Regions from separate parts of the Homo sapiens genome. Here region 1 is linked to region 2. The links come from fine-mapping of genetic effects on gene expression. Tissue or cell type: whole blood. Region 2 holds a variant in brackets; the other region holds the start of a gene. All regions are shown on one strand. Distances are between the middles of the regions.

Region 1 (2,687 bases), 120 kb after region 2:
TAGTAAGAACACAATCCAGAAGTCACTGCCTCGGGGGAATCCCAGCTCAGCTTCTTGCTAGCTTGCGTAGGCTGGTTACTTCACTTCAGCTCCCTGAATCTGCTTTCTTATCTCTAAAATAAAAATAATAGCTTCTTCCTCAGAGTAGTTGGTGGAACTGAAAGAATACATGTAAAGTGCTTAGTATGACACCTGCCACATAATATGAACTGAATTATTGTGAATTATGATAAATTTGTCAGATACTGGTTTACAAATCGGATGTTAGAATAACATGGAATCAGTGTTTCAGTCATTTTACTATACATATGCAATATTTTCTACATTTGATCTCACTTCAGAAACAAAATACTGCCCCCCCCATTTTACAAATGCATATTTTTTTCTCAGCAATAATGTTCAAGAACAAGTGCTTGGCCCATATTTTGTTGTCTTTACATGGCTTTCTTTAAATAATGGGGATGGATTTATTAAATAACCTCATGAGTAATTTTCAAAATTTCCATTAAGATCTTGATTGAAATTGGATGAAAAATCATTTCTAAGAAAAACCCAATGAAGTGTTTTTCTTTGCCACATTTGACAATTGCCTTGGACTTGGTAAAGTAATCATTACTGTGTTGAGTACCTCCAGTGCCCTCCTTGACGCTGCCTTAGAAAAGGTAGCTGCTTTTGAATGACAGGCAGGAATTTGTTCGCCTTTTAGGTTCAGCCTGTAGGTGCCCTCTGCAGGAAATCAGGAACTAGGGTTTTGGAAGCAGTCAGGGTGGGGTTCTCCCTTGTCCCTGCAGCCTCAGCAAAGACTCAGGCAGTCTGGCAAAAGCAGTTTCTTCAGCATACCTAACAGAACGCAAGTTTCCATATGCCTGATGCAAATAATGGCCTCCAAACGTTAAACCTTTTTTGAGATAAACTTGTTCTTTAATTGCCAGCGCCTGCAGTTAATTTTGATTGGCTACACTCTGGTTAAAAGAAAATGCTTTCGATGTGATATGGCAAATTTGGAGAAAAGTAACTCTTTTGCTCCCAACCAGTCTTCCACAACTTAAACTTAATCGTCCTGTCCTTTTCTGCTGCCCTCGTGGAGTGTAAGTTTTTGAGGGAGACCAGCAGAAACTGACTTTCCATATGCCCCTGAAGAATAACTTCTTTGAATGCAAAGAGGTGGGGACACGGAGGATCTGTCATTACGGGTTATTATGGGTGGGACCCAGAGACGGGAGTGAAGGGAGGGTGTGGCCCGCGGGTGGGATCTGTAGAGCAGACAAAATATGGGGCCCCTGGCGCTTAAAGTTCAGTTTGTCTCTCTTGAGCTTGGAGAAAATCATCCGTAGTGCCTCCCCGGGGGACACGTAGAGGAGAGAAAAGCGACCAAGATAAAAGTGGACAGAAGAATAAGCGAGACTTTTTATCCATGAAACAGTCTCCTGCCCTCGCTCCGGAAGAGCGCTGCCGCAGAGCCGGGTCCCCAAAGCCGGTAAGATCGATGATTCGCTGTCCTACCGCAGCCAGGTGTGATGGCCTCTTAGTCCCGGTGAATTCAGGGTCAGCCCCTCCCGCCCCCGTCCTCTCCTCCGCCCGATGCCACCTCCTTCCCCAGCCGCCGGTGAGCTCCCGCTCTGACAGTTCCGCGCTCAGCGCCCTGCACCCAGTTCCCAGGCGCACGGCCCTGGTCCCGACCACCACCCCGGTCGCCCGGCGTCCGAGACCCTCCCAGGGTCATGGGCAGGGTTTCCTTCAGTGTTCGAGTCGGCTCGATCCGGAGACCCCGGTCTCCATGCCGGGGGTGATGCCACCTTTCCTGCAGAGTCCCTCCTCCGCACGGTGCCCTCCAAGCATCTAGTGGACTTGGCTGCACACTGGCGGCAGGGGAGGCTGCAGGTGGAGCTGTCGGAGCCAGCCCCTCGGGGATCTACAGCTTCCTGTCTGCGCCGGCGTCTCGGGCGCCGGGTGGCTGGAGGGACTGTGCAGCAGTCTTGCCTGCCCCAGACGTAAGCCCCCTTCCCCAGCTGCGAGCGCCTGGGTGTCGGTCCCTCCACAGCCCGGGCTCGCGCTTGGTTCCCCGGCCCCCAGTTGGTGCCTGGGGATCACTCGCCCGTCCTAAGTGCTGGCATCCCAGAACTGGCCCTCTTGCAGAGTGCTGGGAACTTGTAGGTCCCTGCGTGCAAACTTTCTCCGGCGTGAACCTGCCTAGGCACAGGAGGGCTGGCCGCCGGGGGCGCAGGCTCTGCGCTGTAGGATTTGGTTGGCTCAGATCCAGTCCTGGGAAGGGGCAGCGTTGGCTCTCGTTCAGGAGGAGAAAGAAAGGGAAGGGCACCACGGACAGTCCCTACTGGCCTGAGCCCCCAGGAAGAAGGTCTAATTTGCGGCTGCCCCTCTCCTTCGGTGTCATTAGGGCCCCGGAATCCGCTTGCTACCGCGAGGGTCCCAGCTGCTCCGAATCGGGGACCGACCGGTGACGCTAGCTGCAGGCAGAGAGGGCAGGCTGTGCGGGCGGAAGGGAGGTGGTGTCTTGTCGGATCTTACTGGGACCCAGTTCCTGAGCTCCCGTGGCAGGCGCCTCACTCCTGCTACTACCTGCTCGGGGCCAGTGGATGGCAGTGTACGCGCTTTTTGCACGGCTCCCGGTTCCTGGGACCGAGCCCTGGGAGCTCTGACTTTGAATTCAGCAGGGAAGCTTCGGGGCT
Region 2 (2,687 bases):
AATTTGTTCATTTGCAGAAACCGAATTGTACACTGGCCTTTTTCAATAGAAAGAGCTTTAATTCTTGGAAATAGATGCAAAGAGTCATTAGAAGGGCTGGGGCTCTAGGCTGAACCATAGGCATAACCCCAGAACAATATGCCAGAATTAGCCAGCAGGGAAGTTTCTTCCTCTCTTGTAACCTGAAAGTGGGCAGTGAGGAAGCTCCCACTGGAACTGTTTATTCAAGAACGCACTTCCTTAGATGGGAGCCACTTCCACTGCACCTGGCACAACAGTCACCCTACTCCTGCTAGATGCATTCCAGCATAAACTGGATGCCCTTCCTTTGGCACCAGGAAAGCTAGTAACCAGACGGGGATAGCCGCCTCAGAATATCCAACGTGTCCCTGCCCATTCTTGCTGGCAGCCATAGCAGAAATGGAAGATCCATTGTCTTCACCTCACTTCTACCTTCCAAATCTCATACAAATGCATTTAATTGACTAAACCTAAGTGCCGCAAATGCCATCCAGAATCTGAGCTGCAAAGCAGACTCAGTAATGTAGATTTTTAGCTCTTTCAGTTTTTGCAGATCATGAAAGCACACTAGAAGGAGAGAAGAATGGGTTATGTGGGCCAATTCACCATATCTGTCGCCCTAAGAACCATTTCAAAGTCGTTGTAAATTTAGTGAGTTTTCATAACTTCTAATGAAATGTCTCATGAGTATAGCTTTTTAAAACACAAAACTATATTTGTTCATGCCATAAGCATTTCTTGAGTACCTATCATGTGCAAGCACTGCTGTGGTTACAAAAGTCTCCCTTCCAGAGGAGGTTGTAGCCTTGTGAAGATGGTGTGTGTCACAATTTAGCAAGTGGAAAACAATTGAAATATGTACAAAATGCAGTGGCAGAGAAGAGAAGGAAGCAATTACCTAGGTCAAGGGCGAGGAGTCAGTGGCCTGGACTTGAGCAATGGATAACACCTATTTGGACTCAAGAGAAGTGGACTTTTGAAGCCCAAGGAGAGCATATGCAAAGGCACAGAGGTGTGAAACAGCATGGCTCAGGCAGGGAACTGCAGCTGGAACACCACTTTGTACCTTAGTAATAATCTGTTCTCATAGCATAGACCAATCATTAAAAAAATTGTTATATGGGCCAGGCGCGGTGGCTCACGCCTGTAATCCCAGCACTTTGAGAGGCTGAAGGGGGCGGATCACCTGAGGTCAGGAGTTGGAGACCAGCCTGACCAACATGGCGAAACCCTGTCTCTAGTAAAAATACAAAAATTAGCCAGGCGTGGTGGTGGGCGCCTGTAATCCCAGCTACTTGGGAGGCTGAGACAGGAGAACAGCTCAAAACCAGGAGGCAGAGGTTGCAGTGAGCTGATATCGCACCACTGCACTCCAGCCTAGGTGATAGAGTGAGACTCTGTCTCAAAAAAAAAAAAAAAAAAAAAAAAAAAGAAAAGAAAAAAGAGACAGAGAAAAAGAAATTTTATTGGATTCCAAGAATTCATATCCTAATTGAGTCACTGAGGCATGTACACAAAACTGT[T/A]AAGTAACAAAATTAGGAAAAAGTGATACTAAAATATTTAACAACTATTACAGTCGTGAGCACTTAACTATCAGAAAAGGATAGTTATAAAGGATGGTTATAAACAACTGGTCTAGCTATATCGGTGAGTACCTTTACATAGCAGCCCTGTTTGAATATAGCCTAAAGGTCCCTGGGCCCATGGAGTCTTTGGATCCAAATAAATTTGCATAGTCATCAACGGCACAGAATTTCAGCTCCACCTACACCCAGAGGGCCTTCAGCTTTACCCCCCCTTCAAAAAGGCTCGTAAGGTTTTCCAGGGAATCCCTGAAGGGGTGCCTCACATGTGCACGTTTTGAACAGAAGTATGTTCTTTAAGTGGCTGGCTCTTTTAAGGGCAGGTATCAAACTCCACGCCTAGGTGATCAAGGCCAGTAGGGAATTAGGAGGAGGAACATTCACCACTCTGCAGTCAGAACCATTCTGGCACCGAGTATTGGAAGCCATGGAAGATGCAGGCGATGTCATCTTTCATGTGGTTATAAAATGGGAAGGTTTTCTGATTCCCCTTGCAGGACGTGCGGCAGGGGTGTGGCTCACCTGTTTGGTCCCCTCCCCCGCCGCTGCTCAAACCCCTGAGGGAAGGGGGAGCACGCAGACGGAAAGGTGCCAGAGCCCAAGTGGGCATGTGTTATAGTGAGCTCCTTTAGCCTTGCTGTCCGGGGACAGCTGAGTGTTAACCTCCCCACCTCCATTCTTTTCCAGAGTACTGGACAAATCAGGTCATATGAACTGTTTGAAAGGTAATGAATGCTGAGACTTTGTTGAACAGTGGAGGTGACTTTCAGCGGGATGGGGAGCTGGAATTCCGGGAAGGTGGAGGGGTGTGGGGATAATCTTCCCCTGGAGTTCCGCCGTTCTGGACGCAACTCCTCTTGATGTTCAGACGCCTCTTCCCTCCTTCTCTGCCGTGCTGCTCTGCTGCTCTCCACCACTCTCTGCCGCTCTCTGCTATTCTCTGCCACTCTGTTCCTCTCGACATTCAGCCGCTTGTGTGTGTGCCCGCTAAGGTCTCAGGTTTATATGGGCACAGGATGGGGGGGACGTGACAGCTAGAGTGGTCTCAGAAAATGCAACATTGAGGCGAAAACAGGAGTGCCT

The links. PIP is the estimated chance that this variant, and not a neighbour inherited with it, causes the effect.
Region 1: CORIN starts here. The variant in region 2 is fine-mapped to the expression of CORIN in whole blood (TOPMed, PIP above 0.99).

What each region holds. Positions count from the first base shown.
Region 1 is chr4:47,836,677-47,839,363 of GRCh38, reverse strand. CORIN (corin, serine peptidase) reads left to right here and starts at 1,297. Exons shown (of 22, transcript NM_006587.4): 1 at 1,297-1,477. The coding sequence starts at 1,415. All of the region lies in intron 1 of LOC101927179 (a long non-coding RNA gene), which reads right to left.
Region 2 is chr4:47,953,939-47,956,625 of GRCh38, reverse strand. The region is part of intron 3 of CNGA1 (cyclic nucleotide gated channel subunit alpha 1); the gene reads left to right. All of the region lies in intron 1 of LOC101927157 (a long non-coding RNA gene), which reads right to left. Among named protein-coding and RNA genes, the nearest start is that of NFXL1, 41 kb to the right of the region's middle. The variant T/A (reference allele first, on the strand shown) is at 1,545.